Regions from separate parts of the Homo sapiens genome. Here region 2 is linked to region 1. A link means that fine-mapping ties the variant in region 1 to the expression of a gene that starts in the linked region. Tissue or cell type: whole blood. Region 1 holds a variant in brackets; the other region holds the start of a gene. All regions are shown on one strand. Distances are between the middles of the regions.

Evidence for each region. PIP is the estimated chance that this variant, and not a neighbour inherited with it, causes the effect.
Region 2: it holds the start of OTOF, and the variant in region 1 is fine-mapped to the expression of OTOF in whole blood (INTERVAL, PIP 0.98).

The regions. Positions count from the first base shown.
Region 1 is chr2:26,456,174-26,464,274 of GRCh38, forward strand. DRC1 (dynein regulatory complex subunit 1) reads left to right here. Exons shown (of 17, transcript NM_145038.5): 17 at 288-538. The coding sequence ends at 344. It overlaps OTOF (otoferlin), which reads right to left. Exons shown (of 47, transcript NM_194248.3): 40 at 7,791-7,933; 41 at 7,310-7,398; 42 at 5,910-6,008; 43 at 5,523-5,764; 44 at 4,679-4,857; 45 at 4,474-4,574; 46 at 3,835-4,032; 47 at 1,030-2,047. The coding sequence ends at 3,852. Among named protein-coding and RNA genes, the nearest start is that of DRC1, 58 kb to the left of the region's middle. RefSeq lists enhancers at 1,459-2,029, 2,030-2,599, 4,288-4,993, 6,679-7,878, 7,448-7,742. The variant CAA/C (reference allele first, on the strand shown) is at 3,379.
Region 2 is chr2:26,554,131-26,562,231 of GRCh38, forward strand. It overlaps OTOF (otoferlin), which reads right to left and starts at 4,626. Exons shown (of 47, transcript NM_194248.3): 1 at 4,363-4,626. The coding sequence starts at 4,441. RefSeq lists enhancers at 3,987-4,780, 4,781-5,573.

The DNA of each region.
Region 1 (8,101 bases):
GGATGGCATGGGTGCGTGGAGAGAGGAGAGGGGAAGACTGCAGAGAATGGACGGGCGGGAGATGAAGAACGCTACCAGAGGTCACAGCTGGAGCAGAAGCTGAGCAAGAAGGCTCAGGCGTGTCTCCTGCAGGGAGGCAGTCTGTGGGTGTTCAGCATCTCTCAGCTTTGGAGAGGAGATGCGTGCAGGGCTTTGGAGGCCCATGGGAGAGCCAGCGTGGCTCGCAAGGGTGGCAAAGAAGGAGGGCCCTGGGAAAAATGTAACGACTTTCACCCTTTCTTTTCCAGATCAACTCTGAACTGCAAGTTCCTCCCACTCAGGTGTTGCGGGTACCCACAAAATGAGCTGGACCGCCAAAGGCTGATGTGTTAGGGCTGGCCTGATGCTGGTGTCTGTGCCGGAGCCAGCTCATATCACCCACTGGGCCGCACCTGGGCCTGCTCTCTGGATTTTCCAGGGCTGTCTTTATAGCCTGTCGAAATAAGGAGCCAGAGGAGTTACCTGTGTCCTGCATTATGATTAAAGCCTTTTAAAGTTGTGGCTGAATCTCTTTAAAGAGGTCAGGTCTAGCAAGACCAGGCCCTTGCCCCTACCTCTGTGTCATGAGGGGACTTTGCCCCAGGCTCAGATAGTGGTGTGAGTCAGAGGCCGAGGCCAGTAGCGTGGGGCTCCTTTCTTGCTTTCAGGGGAACTGGTTTCTGTGGGTGGAGGCTAGAGCTTTTGGGCCCTTGTGGGGCCTTAAGCCTTCAGACTGGCCCCAGACCTGAAGGATTCTTTCGGTGCTTTGGGGGCCCCTGGGCCCAGGCTGGTGTGCCCTTTGGGCTATGGTGTAAGACTCCTCCTGTGGGCAGCCTGGGTGGGCAGCCCTGTGCCTGAGGCCTGCCTTGAACCCTGGGCCACCAGAGGCCACTTGAAGGGGAAAGGCCATGGGAGCCCTGCTGGTACTGAATCTGCCAGCCTAGAGAACTGCTGCCTCTGCCCCGCACCTGCGGCTGCTCCTCTCAGCTTGACCAGTGCAGACCTGTCAGCTCAGTGCTTGACTTCTTTTATTTAGAGAAAAATCACCACTCAAGAAAAGAAAAACAGCCAACAGAAACCCAGACACAGGCAGGGGCAGCACTTGACGGGCCAGCTCCCAGCTGCAGCTGAAAGGGCTGGAAGGGCAAGGGGGCAGGGGTGGGAGGACAGGGTGTGCCCGGGATGGGGAGTCCCCTCTGCTGCTTCTCACAGCTCCTCAGCTGGGCCTGGAGGCGCTGGCTGGGGCAGAGGGAGCTCTGGGAAGCCATGGAAACCCACAGGCAGGACAGGCGACCCCCTGGGAAGTGAGAGGAGCCAAGTGGAGCCCAGCAGTGGCAGAAGCAGCCGCGCTGGGACTTGTGGGCAGGGTCTGGCCCCTGCTGCGGATCAAAGACCGGTGCTATCTGCAGGGGTCACGGCGGGGATACCTTTTGCTCGTTCATTCTTTTTAAAGCCCTGGGCACTGACCCATGGTCCTTGGTTAATTTCACTAAAGCTTCAATCCTGTACTTGGAAGACCTGGGGAGGGTTTCAGGAGTCTTCCTCTGGAGCCTGGGCCTGAAGAAGGGTGGCGCCTCAGCCAGGTGGGGCAAGAGAGACCCATTCCAGGTCCCCACCCCATCCAAGGCTCCCCAGCCCACAGGCAGGGGTCAGAGGGGCGGGACTGGGCAAGCCGCAGCCTGGGGCAGTGAGGACAGGCGGCCCCCGCAAGCAGGAGGCAGGCTCGGCCCAAGGCATGAAGAGTGGACGCTGGGCTCCTCAGGCTCCCCAGGGGAGATGGGAAAGAGTCCAAGCCACTGAAAGGAAATGCGGCAGGGCTGGGGAGCGGCTGGCGGGAGCTGGCGGCCTTCATGCCCCAAGGAGCTTTTTGACCATGTAGCCAGGGAGGCTGTAGAGGAAGAGCCCCAACATGAGCAGCCCCAACAGCGCCAGCACGATCTTGATGATGAGCCACTTGTACCGGGTGCAGATGAGGTACTTGATGGACTTGAGAGGGTTGAGGAACCAGACGAAGGCCGTGTCGGGCCGGCTGGGAAGTGGAAGAGAGGAGCCGGTCAGCCAGTGGGCAGGAGCTGCCTCCCAGTGCACCCCATCCTCTGTCCTTCTGGACCCCCAAAAGCCCTGCCATGGCCCCAGCCCCAAAAGCAGTGAATGCTGGAGCCAGGGTTTAAACCCATTTCTAAGTACCCGACTTGCTGCTTACAAAACTCTATCCTCCCTGCAGCACCTTTGGGGCCCGAATCTCCTCCTAAGGCCTAGATGGGAGCTACTTGCAGCATGGGGCAGCCTTGGCCCTGCAGGCAGTTCTCATCGTTAGGAAGCTCCTGCGGTTAGCTCGTTCTATGTGCTGCCCCACGTCCTTGGTAAGACTGGTGCTTCACAACCTCTTCCTTTCTGATGGACATAAATGGCTGTTCCCACCGGGCCCTGCTGAGGGTCTGAGCAGCCCCTGTGGGGTGCAAGCTGCCCTCACCGACCTGCCCACTCTCAGGATGAAGACCCACTCCACCTTCTGTAGAGCCTCCCAGCCGAGAAGCACCTGGCCAGCCTCACTATCTGTCGTTTGTGTTATAAAAACAATAGGTTTTGTAAAATGTCAAGATACAAGTGAAAGTACTGCATATGCATTTTCAAACTACTGCCTCCCAGAGGACATGGCGTGCAGCCCCAGAGCTGAGCTCAGTATTGGTGGGGACACAGAGCCGGGGCTTGGGTGCAGGGCACCTGGTTTTGAATGGTTTTCACAGGCAAGTGAGGCACCTCTATCAACCTCGGTTTCTTCATGTATAAAATGGGGTTACAAGCAGTACCTACCTCCTGGGTTTGGCGCAATGGCACAGTGAGCCAGTGCCTGGGGAGCTCTGAGCACCTGCAGTTGGGTGTTCAGGCCATGGTGGCTATGAAATGTTTGAGTTGAATGGAATTATTATCCTGAAGGGCAGAAAACAACAGCCCTGGACTGGGAGGTCACACACGGGTGAGAGCCATTTCCAGACCTGTTGGCTAACCCTGGCCACACCCTTCCCTTTTCCCTGTCCATAGCTCAGCTTCTTTCTGCCAATGAAATTGGGTTAGAGTCGGCTGGGCGCGGTGGCTCACGCCTGTAATCCCAGCACTTTGGGAGGCCGAGATGGGCGGATCACGAGGTCAGGAGATCGAGACCATCCTGGCTAACACAGTGAAACCCCGTCTCTACTAAAAATACAAAAAATTATCCAGGCGTGGTGGCGGGTGCCTGTAGTCCCAGCTACTCAGGAGGCTGAGGCAGGAGAATGGCGTGAACCCGGGAGGCGGAGCTGGCAGTGAGCCAAGATTGTGCCACTGCACTCTAGCCTGGGCGACAGAGCGAGACTCTGTCTC[CAA/C]AAAAAAAAAAAAAAAAAAAAAATTGGGTTACAGTCTGGGAGAAACATGGCTGGGAGCAGAGGTGGTGTGCAAAGAACACAGGATTGGAAATTTGGAAACCTTGGCTTGAGTCCCGGCTCTACCCTAATTTGCTGGGTAACCTTGAGCAAGCTACTTCACCTCTTTGGCTTAATGTGGAAAAGTGTAAAATAGTCATTTCTAGTTCTGAGAGTCTATTCTGTCATGAAAGCTTGAAAGTTGCTGTGCATGTTTGTGTGGGCTTAAGTGTGTGCCTGTGTGTGCTTGAGTGCATGTGTATGCACTTGTGCGTGGCACATGTGTGCATACATGCTTGTGTGTGTTTGTGTGCACATGTATGCATATTTGTGTTTGTGGATGTGTGCGTGTATATGTGTGTGTGTGCACGCGCCTGCCTAGCCCTTGGTCCAGAGGAAGAAGTAAGAAATATCAGACCCAGGAGGCCACTGGGCTCAGGCCCCGAGGATTTTCTTGACCAGGTAGCCAGGCACAGAGTAGAGGAACAGGGCGAGGAGGAGGAGCAGCAGCAGGAGCAGCAACAGTTTGAGGAGCAGCCAGCGATACGTGTGCCACAAGAAGTAGCGAGCCGACTTGAGAGGGTTCAGGAACCAGATGAAGCTCGTGTCGGGCCGGCTGGAGTATGAAGGGTAGAGAGCGCAGAGGAGGGACAGGGAGGAGAAGGGATTGGGTGTGGCGAGGGGCCAAGACCAAGAGGGAAGCTGTCCTGGGCTGTGTGTGCAGTTCTAGGCACCCCTCTGGCCATCAAGGCTGGCCATGGCCCCAGAGGCCACCACTGGAGCTGGCTCTTCTGCAAAAGCTAGGAAGGGAAGAGCATAGTTTCTCTCCGCTAGATGGGGCCTTTCCCAGGGAAGGTCCTGCTCTCCAGTATTCCTAGCCCATCCTCTGGTTCAAAGGGACGTTGTGGGATTCAGGGTTGGCAGAGGGCAGGGAGGAGGCTCCCCTGTAATGAGGCTGTGGCCCAGGAAGAGATGGGGTGTCTGGGGATCGTCTCCTTCCTGTTCCAGCGCCTCCAAGAGCCAGAGTGGGGAGGGGCTGGGCCGGCAGGGCACTCACTTGGGTTTCTCTAGGGGGTCAGGTTCATTGCGGGCCAGGCCCACTGGGTTCTTCTCTGCCTCCTCTGCTGTCAGTAAATGCAGCTCAGCCTCCACCTTGCCCTGCAGAGGACAGACAGGTCCCAGCGTCCAGGCTGCGTGCTGGGCCCTTGGCACCCCAGCCAGTCCCAGCCCTGCCTACTGCCCGAGCAGGAAGGGGTGCGCACCGTGAGCTCAAACTCATCGTTCTCATTGCGGGCCAGGAGGGGCCACCAGCCTTTGACGCGCTTTTGCTTGAAGATGGACACGAGGGGCACGTCCACCTCCCCGGTGGCCATCTCCATGGTGCACTGCTTGGCTGTCTTTGCGCCCCGCGGGAACCGGTTCAGGTCCAGCTCGATGGCCCCTGTGGCAACCTCAGTGTCAGCTCAGAGTGAACAGGGCTGGGGTGGGGCGGGGTGGGGGTGGGGGTCTGGGCTCCTCGGCCCCTTGTTTGCTGAGTGCAGACCTCCCTGAGCCCACATCTCATCCTCCTGCCTCACTCCCAGCAACTGGCCTCAATGCAGGCATCCTCGTGGGCTTGCTAGGCAGCCCCAGCCCCCATGCTTTACTCAGGTCCTTCTTTCACCCCAGAGGGTCTCTCCTGGGGTCTCCCCTGCCACTCCCTGCCATGCATCCATTCTGTCAAAGTCCTGCTAATCCCACAAGCTTTTGCAGATGCAGATTAGAGTTTTAGGGAGAATCCCTGCTTTACAGAGAAGCAACCTGAGGCCCAGGGAGGTTTCCCGACTCCCTTAGGGAGCCTCTCCCCTCCCCCATCATCACTGACTGCCCCCTCCTTGGTGTGTCCAAAGCTTGTTGTCAGCCTGGTTATGACACTGAGAACATCTGCCTAGGGACGGTTAGGTGGGTCCTTGGGGGCGGAACCCCGTCGGACACCCCTGGCTCTGATGGACTGGAAGCAATGACCCCTTGTCCCCCCAAGGCAGGGCTCTCCCTGTCCCCGCCAACCCGGCCCCTGCCTCTTCTCAGTTCTGGATCCTGAACCCCCATCCCTGCCCTGCTCTGCACCCAGGAAGTCGTCAGCGGAGAAGTGGTCCGCATCCCAGATCTGCAGGGTGAGCCGCGCGGGGATCTTGTACTCGGTCTCGTCCCAGGAGAACATGGACTCCTTCTTGGAGATGACGATCTTCTCCTCCGCCGCCAGGTAGTCGAAGGGGAACAGGTAGCGCCAGTTGAAGTTGCCCTCGCCAGTGAGGGAGTGGTAGTGGACGTCTGTGTCCTGCTTGTCCTCCTGCTGGCCCTTCAGCCACCTGTGGGCGCCACATCTCCAGACCCGCAGCCAGGCTGGTGGGGCCTCTCCCACCCACAGCCACCTTCCCTCTGCCTCCTCTCCTGCCCCCCGGGAAGCAAGCCCCACCCAGCTCAGTCCCTCCCATGCAGGGACTGCTCACCCACCCCCTCACGAAGATGTCACTGGACTTCTCCCCTGTGAAGAAGTCGTCGTCCTCCAAGACCACCTCATCTGTGTTCCAGATGATGACCCGCAGCTCGTACCTGGGCCCAGGGAGAGAAGGCTGGTTAGCAGCCCCAGGTGGGGGTTATGCCAGGGTGCCAGGGCTGGGATGGGGCAGGCGGAGAGAAGCCCTGGGGTCTTGGGGTCAGCACAGGGCCTGGGCCAGGCTGGGGCTGGAGGAGTGGTTTGGGGTTGGGGGAGCAGAGGCATGAGTGAGAAGGCCCACCAGGCACATGGCTGTGGGCGGTGGGGGTGGGGTGAGGGGAGGAAGCCACCCTCTGTCTCAGATGCTAGTTCCAAGAGAAGTCTGCATTTAAGCCCAGTAGCCAGCAATGGAAGCCCATGGAAGCTGTATGTCCCTGTCCCCAAAGAGGATTTTCCCCTCAAGGTTTAATTGTAATTATGAATGATGTAGTTCATTTCAATCATTAAGAGTGAGGCTGAGTCATTCACTAAAAATTGATCTGAGCATGGCTCTCCTGGGATTGCAGACAGGGCTGCGAGCCCAGAGTGGCCCAGTGAGTTGGGTGCCCCCTAATGACAGGCCCTGGAACAGCTGACTCATGGCCTCAGGTTTCCAGGACATTCCTGGCAGAATTTGCTGCATGATTTGCTGGGGCCAGCGCCAAATGGAAATGCAGGGTCACTTGTCATAAAGAATTTCAAGATGGCAACATAGGAGCATGGAAACAAGAGTGGGACCCTGTGTGGCTTCCTCCATCCCTGAAGCTGGCCCTGAATCCAGTCACTGTCTGACAGCTGGACTTGAACCTGCCGCTTTATGGATGGGAAACCCGGGTTCTTTTCACTCTACCACCTCCTGCCTCTTCCAGGCACTCACTCCTGGATTCATCACTGGCAGGCACTCCAAAGAAAACTTGGCGGAACATCACACTAGCCTGGATGTGAGGATGACGCAGGGCCGGCTCCCAGGGGTTCTGTGTGTTGTGAAGGAGTGCGTCAGTGTGGGCATGTGTGTGGGTGTCCGTGGGAGTGCTATGCTGTGTGTGTGTGTGTGCATGAGATGCATGTGTATGGGCGCGTAGACCGTGTAGATACAATGCACCGGAGTGTGCTGTGTGGGGCTTGTCTCGCTCACTGATGCAGGGTGGAAGGCGTTGTCCTGCCTTAGCACGTGGGGACTCTCCAGGGCAGGCCCTAAACTCTATCGATTGGTTGGTCAGTTTCTCCCCTATAAGGCCCAGTGGCCACACCCAGGCCCCAGGGATGCCAACTGGCCAAGGCCATCTGGACCTGAGCCCCCCGCAGGAAGGGTTGGGCCGTGGTGGGAAGTGGGTGGGGTGGGCCGGAAGGGAGTAGCGCTGGGCCCCAGGCCGCTCACTTCTTGGGCTTCCGAGGTGAGATGTCCAGAGGCGTCCCAGGGGCTGGCATGTCCATGGGGAACATGTCCACCCACAGCTCCAGGCGGCCCTGAGGAAGAGGGTTGTGGCAGATCTCCCAGGGCCTTCTCCCTCTGCCCAGGAAGATCAGCTCTCCTCTCCCTCCTAACCTTTGTTCTGTCAAGGACCCAGTTCATCAGTTTCCATCTTTGGATGCCAGGAATTCCTATGATGTCACCAATAGCCAATCACAGCTTCTGAGGGAGACAACCCAGGTCTCTGCCTGAGCTGATGTAATTCTCACTCAAAGCAAAGACCCTTGCCATTCAAGTTACCCTGAGGGGCCTTGGTGGGAAGGTGCCTGCCAGGCTTTCTGGAATGCAGCGGACAGCGTGAGGCCTGGCTTCTACCTTTACTGACTCAGGTTGGGGATCCCTGGTCCCCAATACCCAAGAACCCCAGTCTTGGCCATGCAAGTGTCACCTGCTCGATGCCCGGCTTGTCGGGGTTGAGCAGCGGCCTCGTCTCCACATGCTCTGGCACCAGGCGGCAGCCTGCGCGGGGGATGTCCTCCCAGTGCCTCAGGGCCAACAGCGCCACATGCTCGTCTGTGGGCTTCCTCTGACCTGTGGGTGCCGGCGGCTCAGCTGCACACATGGCTCAGCAGAACCAGAAGACCTTTGCTGGGACTAGGGACTTAGGAGCACAAAGAAGCCTCTATGCCATCACCTGTCTACCCCACCTCCTTTTCACTGTTGGGGAAACTGAGGCACAGAAGGAGAAGTGGCTTGCCC
Region 2 (8,101 bases), 98 kb after region 1:
GCACTGCACTCCAGCCTGGCGACAGAGCGAGACTCAAAAAAAAAAAAAAAAAAAAAAATCGTTAGGCCCCTCTGGAGCCCTAGAAGATTCTCTGGGTTAGGGAAGTTGATGGAAGGAGTAAGAGCCAAGGTTCTTGGTTCTTGGCCCTTGAGGCCTCTTCCAGTCCCTTGATCCTCCTTGGATAGAAAGTTCTGGGGTGAGAGCTCACAGTTGGGGAAATGGAGCCAAAGAGTGACAGTGCCACAGTGGAAGAACTCAAACCCATGACACAGTGAATCCCTCAAAGACAGAAACCATGTCTGATGTCTGTCCTGAAGATGCTCAAAAGCTTGGGCAGCATGCAGAGGTGTGGCCAGTTTCTGAAATGCAATGTACCTTGGCAGAGCAGTAGGAAGAATGTGTGCAAAGTACTGCTAGAGGAGTACTTTGTGTGCAAAGTACTACTCCTTCATGGAGGAGGTAGCATATGAGCTGGGCCTTGAAGGATGAGCAGAATTAATGGGCGTTCTCAAGGTGGAGGGTGGTCATTCCAGGCAGAAGAAATATGATCGATGTCTCAAAGTTTGGAGGTGTAAAAGGGTGTGGTATCTTTTGGGAATGGCTGGAAGTTGAATGTAGTGGGAACATAGCAGGGTGGGAATCAGGGGGAGGGTGGGAAGAAGAGTAAGAATGAAAAGGTGGAGGGGGATGCCCTGCAAACCTTTGTGCCAATTTCCAGCCACAGTGAATTATGTGGAAGCCAGATCCAGCCTTTAGATGTTCTTATCTCACACAGAAAATCCCCAAACCTCATGTCTTGGCAAGAAGGCTCAGGGGATAGAAAGAGAAGGGAGACATCAGGGTTGGCCCTGGACTGTCTGTCACTTGGTTCCCTTACAGTCCAGGTCCCCCAGCCTTGGTGCTCAGCACTGGACAGAAGGTTGGACTAGAAGAACTTCGGGACCCTTCACACCCTGCGTTCTGTGGCTCTGTGATTGATGTAGGGAACTATCTCAGGAGTTGATAAAGGAAATACCTGAAGCTAATACTTCCTCTCTTTGAGTAGCAACCTGTGGTCAAGATGGCTCCTTCTTAGATAGCCCACTCTTGATTACTCCTGGGAACTGCAGGCCTCTGAGCTAAATGAGGACCACTGTCTCCATTTTGTTAATGAGAAACCCAGCTGAGCCCTGTGGCCTGCAGGCACAATAGAGATTCGCCCAGGACTCCCTATCTCCTGTCTGACCCAATGGGATTGTGACTCCTGGAGGGCCAGGCTGGCCCCTTCACCTCAGGGTCCCAGGCCTGTGCACAAATATTAGCATGTTCAGGAAATGCATGAACAGGGCAGCACCAGCTTAGGAGCAGCCAGGGGCAGTAAGAACTAAGAGCTAGATACAGAACTGGCTGGGAGCACTGACCGAGGGGCCGACTGGCCTGAGGGCAGTGGGAAAAGAGGTGGCCACGGGCAAAGCTGGTGCACACCCAGCCAGATGAGAACAGGAGTCTCGGGGGTCTGCCTGCCTGGGTTCCTGCGGAACATCTCAGCAGAGGCTCCTACAGAGCAGAGTCCAGGCTCTCTGCCTTCTCCTGGCAGACTGGAACCCCTTAGACGTGCTCTCCTCTTCCCTTTATATCTCACATGGGGCCCTCTGCTGGTCTGGAGAGAAGATACCTCAGGGGCCAGCAGCTGCTCCCAAGGAGAATGGGAATGGCTGCCTCACAAACACATCGACCATTTGAATACTCTTCCCACAAACTCTTCCATACCTATGGTTTCCCTGAAGCAATCTAGTGAAGTGAGTGTTATTATCATGCCCATTTTACAGATGAGGAAACTGAGGGTGAGTGGCAGAACCCAGGTAGGATCTAGGGCTTCTGACTCCATATCCAGAACTTTTTCCACAATAGCCCAGGAGGGCTCTTTCCTTAGTGTCTTGGATGGCACAGCACAGAAGGTCAAGCCATATTTCAACCAGCTGCTCTGGCCTACCTAGGGCCACTGCCAATGGGCACAGCTCACCAAGGGCTCCCTCACCACCTCCCCCGGCATTGACTTTCACTCAAAAGCCTTGGGGAGCCTGGGGCCAGTGTCTCCCTCTGCGTGTTTACCAGTTTCTTGTTTCCCCCTGCAGAGGACTTGCTTGGCCCCCAGTGGTTGCATGTGCTGGGAGATGCTAAGGAACATTGTAGAGCGGGTCCATTCCCTCTGAATTGTGGTCAGTGTTGGTCTTTTGGGGCGCCTACAACTGTGAACTGCTAGATGACACAGGTGAGCGGCTGAGGCATCTTTCGTTGTAATAAAGGTACTTTCTGGAAACTGCTTGTCATCTGCCTATTCCTGCTGCCCAGCCCCCTTCCCCAGGAGCTCTGCCCATGGCCACCTCCTGCCAATGTGGAGCTTGGAAGCGATTTCTCCACTCAGTCCAGAGAGCAAGGGTTGCAAATAAACTAATTCCTGTGTGGTCAGTGAGGCTAAAGGCCCAGCCCTTCACTGCTCCAAGGAGAAGATGGGTGTCAGACAAGGTGCTGGCCCCCAGGTGGCCCAGGAGCAGATAAAGAGCTTGCAAGATTGAGTACTCAGGATGAGGTCCTGAGAGCTGGGACCACCGTGCCTCAGCTCCTCCGTGAATGCCACGCGCAGTGTTCTACCCCTGAACCTTGGTTTCTCGGCCTGCAAGTGGGCCTGTCCGGTGCAGCCTGGACCGTTCCAGCACAGCTGCAGCAGGATGGCAACCTGTAGCTTAACCGCCCCACACTATGCTGCCCGTGGAGCTCAGGGCCACATTTCACAGATGAAAGGACACATTTGCTTTTTCTAAAGCCAGCATGAGCCTGCAGGTGGCACACAGAGGGAGATCCAGGGTGCTGCAGAGAAAGCAGTCAGTGGGTTGGGGTGGGAGGCAAAAGGCAGCCCAGCCCACACCTCCCTCTCCCTCCTGCCTAACCTCCGCCTGCCGGCAGGGCCACTGCCATCACCTCCACCCCTGCCTGTCCCTATGAACACAAGCTGCAATGTGGGCATCCCAGGGCCTCTGGGTAGGTGATGTGGGTGCCCCAGGGCTCTTGCTGGAATGTTCTGCCAATGGTCTCTCCCATCCCTTCCAACAGAGGTGCAGACACTGTGTCCAGCCTGGGCCCCAAGGCTCACTTTGCTCTTTAGTATAGGGGGGTCCTCTCTGCCCCCTTCTCACCACCTCGTCCCCATCCCACTCTCAGACCCCTCTCTCGGGAGAAGGGGCCATGTCTAGTGAGAAGTACCCCCAACCCTCAGGGCTGGGCAGCAACCACATGGAGAGGCAGAGGTGGGTGGTGAAGGACAGAGTCAGCCTGGCCCTGCCTTTCCCCACTTAAAATGCTCAGGGGCTCCGCTGTCCCCGGGGTCAGGTCCAGCCTCGCCTCCTTGCCCTGCTTGGCTCTCTGGCCTCCGCTCCTGCACCCTCTCTGAGCTGTAGACACATGGAACCTCTTTCAGTTCCAGAGTTTCAGCTCCTCTCTCAGCTCTGGGCACACTGTTTCCTCTGCCTCCTCAGTCCTTACCTCCTCTCCTAGCTCCCACCCGCTGGTCCTTCGGGTATTAGCTGAGTGTTACTTCCTCCGGGAAGCCTTCCCTGACCACCGGTCACCAGCCTGGGTGAGGGTGCTGCTTCTGTAGCTTGCATGCTGCACCCCCACCTTCTGTCTCACATACCTGTCCTGCTTGTTCCACGCCTGCCCAACAGATGCAGGCTCCTTGGGGCTGGGGCTGGGTTGTGCTCAGCTCTGTGTTTCTACCCCTATCCTTGGGACACAGTAGATCATAATAAATGGTCGCTGAATACAGGAGTGAAAAGGATGAGAAAAGACCAGACAGAAGAGAGGCGAGGGGCTCCCGGGGTTCCCGCCCATGAATAGATCTAAAAGAAGCCAACAGTGTCCCCCATCACTCTGGGGCCCAGGGAGCTACTGGCTGCCTGGTTTCTCCCAGTCACCCTGGGTGCCCCAGGCTCCATACCCGGCCCCCACCCTGTGCTCAAGGAAATCAACCTGCAGGAGAGGGAGAGAGAGAGAAGGAGGGGGTCCTGGGTCTCCCTGAGCTCAGGGATGTGGTCCTCACTTCTGCCTCCCCAGGCAGAGGGCTCTGTGCCCTGCCCGGGGAACTGGCATGTTGGCAAGCACAAGGAGACACAGGCATGGAAGAACAGGGGACCCTGATTTTCCAGAAATCACAATGGCCAGTCAGTCCCAGGCAGATGACTACCTGTGAAAAGGCTCGTCGCCCCAGCCCCTGCTAGAACTTTTCCCACCCATCCTCCCAGCCCTGTCCTATCCCCGGCCACCTCCAGAGCATGGGCTGGTCCAGCTCTCAGAGCTGGCGTCCCTCTGAGACAGCGGCTTCCCTACCTCGGAAAGTCACTTTGGCGATCCGGTCGCCCCTGCCCCGCAGCTCCGAGACTGTCTTGAGGTGGATGAGCAAGGCCATGCTGGTGTGGGCTGCCTGGCACTGCCAGGCAGGAGCAGCGGGAAGGAGCTAGCCGGTGGAGCACGGCTCACACGCCTCTCTCTTCTCTGCCGCTGCCTCCTCCTCCTCCTCCCGACCCCCCTCCGATGCTGCCCACAGAGACCAAGGCAACCAAGCCGAGCTAAGCTGCTCCTGCAGCGACTCACAGAGCCTCACAGCCCCCGCCCCTCCAAGTTGTCAGCCCAGCGTGTGTGTATCGGTGTGTGCGTGTGTGTGTGTGTGTGTGTGCACCCAATGTGCAGCCTGGGAGTGCGGCAGAGTTGGAATTCATTATTCAGCAGCCGCCGGCTCCCAGATAAAGCTCTGTCCAGCTTCAGGTGTCTTCTCCCAGCTCCTGGAAGGGAGGCTCTGCCCACCCCTCTGCAGGGCTCTGCTGCTTCCCTGCTAAGCAAGCCCTGCCACCAGTAGTGGGCACAGAGGAGTGGGCATGAGCATAGGTAGGGTGGATGTGGGGCGGGGGGCACTCCCACCCACAGGGGCACACTACAAGAAGAAGGGAATGTATTTGTCCACCTACGCCCACCTCTTCCCTGCTGGAGACTGTGCCCCCAAGAGGCTGGGCCCTGAGCCCTGCCCTGGGATCCCTGTTTCTGAATCTCAGGAAGCAGAGAGGCTGGGGCTGCTGCCTGAGGGGAGGCTCAGGACCAGGCCATGCATGATGGAGATGGCTGGTTGTGGAGGCAGCAGAGGCTTATGTGCTACCAGGGGCCATGTTTAAGGATCCAGGGCACTAACCTAGCCCCACCCCAAGGCTGGGGGTCAGGCAGGCTAGCGAAGGTAAGCCAGGCTGATGTTTGCTTTCCAGCCAGAGGAGCAGAATTGAATGGCCTTCTGCTGTTATAAGCTGCTAGGGGCAGGAGAAGGGATGTCTATAGGGAAATTTCTAAGGACCAAAAGAGAACTGCCCCCTCCTGTCTTCCAGCAGCATACACCAAGGAAAGGGACGCTGGGGGCCAGAATCCCTGATGCTGGAATCTGTGCAGGGTCATCTGCAGCCTTGTTCTTGCTATTCATTCTTGGTGGAATGCCCTCCACCCCACCCTGGACTCAGCTTGAGTGCCTGCTCCTGGAGGTGCCTCTGTACCCGCACCCCAGCTGGGTTGGGGTCCTCCTCTGTGCTGCTCCTGCCTCCTCTCATCTTACTGAGTCCTGGGGCTGCTTCCCTTGCCTTTTCCCCTCCTGACCTCAGGAGGGCCCTGGAGCACAGCATCCCTCTACCCCAGAGCCCCACATGGTATCCTGTGCACCGTAGGATGCCCAATTACTGTTGAAAGGATAAAAGAGTGAGCTCAGGGATCTACCTGAAACAGAGTCTAAAGGTTAAAAAGAGAAATACTAATTTTTCACAGCATGGTAACAAGAGGTTACTTCTTTTGAATTCTGCATTCCAAATAACCTACAGTATGTCCCAAGAGCCTTCTTTCCTCCTTCTAGATATTTCCTTGCTACTGTGCCCTATTTTTCTTTTTCTACTTACGTTTTTTTCCTTTGCACTTTTTCCTAACCAATTCTTGCTTACCTTTCTCACATTTATCTAATCATATTGAATTTAAAAATGTCTTAGAGTATTCTGTTTATTGAATACAAGTATGAATGCTAAATTTTCAAAAGCTAGATAAGTTTAATGTCTTAAAAAAAAAAACACCTAAATTCACTAGCATTTTCCATCCATGAGGTCATCAGGTGATCTGTGTTTTTAAGGCTTGGTGACTACAAGGTACAACAACAACAACAGAAAATATCTTCTTCCTTGGTTCTCTGGAGGTCCTCCCCTGAAAGGAGTGAATTTCATGAGGCCTCTTATAGACCCTGTGCATCTTTAGGAAAAAGCCCATGATCCTGCCCTAGCCAAGGCATTGATCTATGCTGAATCTCACTTTCCACATCCATAAAATGGTAGCAATTCCACTCAGCAGCTCTCAATGGAGTCAGCTGGCCTTTCTGAAAACCTAAGAGACAGATCCCACTCTTTTTTTTTTTTTTTTTTTGAGAGAGAGTCTCACTCTGTCACCCAGGCTGGAGGGCAGTGGAGTGATCTAGGCTCACTGCAACCTCTGCCTCCCGGGTTCAAGCGATTCTCCTGCCTCAGCCTCCCAAATAGGTCAGACTATAAGCATGTGCTACCATGCCCAGCTAATGTTTGTATTTTTAGTAGAGATGGGGTTTCACCATGTTGGCTAGGCTGGTCTCAAACTGCTGACCTCAAGTGATCCGCCTGCCTCGGCCTTCCAAAATGCTGGGATTACAGGCATGAGCCACCGTTCCCAGCCAGAACCCACTTTTTAATTTCCATTCTTCTGTTACCCATTTTGGTAACTGAGTATATAATTTATGTAATGAACATTTACTGAATTCTTTCCAGAGCCAGGTGCTGAGATTCAGGGATGAATATGATATGGATGGCACAGGATCCCAATCAGACGAGACAGATGGACTAGAACACAGGCAGGTGGAAGGCAGGGTGGTGGGTTTACCAGCAGGACTGGCTGGGCAGCCCTGAATGGGGGAGGAAGTAGGCGGTCAACCTCACCAGGGCTGGGGGTCTTTGACTCATGTTTTCCTTATTGTAGAACATGTTCCCCAATGAGAATTTAGAAAAATACAGACATGACTGCATTCTGAAGGATGGATGGATTTTCCTTCCACCCAGTTTGTTTGCAGCCGTTCCTTTGCCTACAGCTCTCTTTCCAACCAGGCCTCAGTGTTTCTGCTTCCTGAGCCTCTGGGAAGCCTGTGGCTCCCCTTCATTTCATTGGCATTTGCCAGGGGAAGTCTTTGGAGAATGCTGGTGGCAGCCACATTCTGTGAACCCAGTAGCGTCTGCGGTCTTCATCCACTGCCATTTACAGAACCGAAGTGCGAGGGGAGCACTGCTCTCCATCCGGCATCTGAAGGGAAGAAGCAAGACCTGGAGACAAAGTGGGAACTGCCAGGCTTCTTCATGACACCAGGACTGCTGCAGAGGGAGCTGGGGTGGCAGGGCCTCCACCCGAGTCACCAAGAGCCTGGCACCGTGGAAGCTGTCCCCATACCCTCACCCCTTATGGAAAAGCCGAAGGCCCTGTGCCTGCCCTAGGCACCAAGGCTGGTGTAAGGGTCCCTGGAGAAACTCAAATGTGGAGGCTGAAGCAGTCACAGGGAGGATTACACAGGGGGTGGGCCTTCAGCAGGCCTGCTCTCTGGGGCAAGCGCTACCCCTGCGGATGCCATCCCCAAAATGAACGGCAGCATTGGGGACAAATGTAAATCACACACCCAGACGTTCTATGATTTTCTTTTTGCCTCTTGTGGAGTAGTTTACAGGTATGATGAGGTGAGAAGGAAGCCATCAGCTAGAGATTAAGAAGAAAAATGAAAAATGCTCCTCTTCGCAAGGCGCGCACACACACACGCACACATGCACGCACGCACGCACACACACAATTACACACAGCGTCCTAGGCAACCTCGCCCAGCGCGGCCCACTACAGAGCCCCTTCCTGGAACTCCCATGGAGCTGGGGTGCAGGGGAAGCCTTGGAGAGACATAGCTCCTGGGGACCCTAAGGCCACTCAGGTTTCTGGGCCTGAGCCACGGTGGGGCAGCTGCTTCGTGCGTGACCTCCAAAGTCAGGACCTGGCC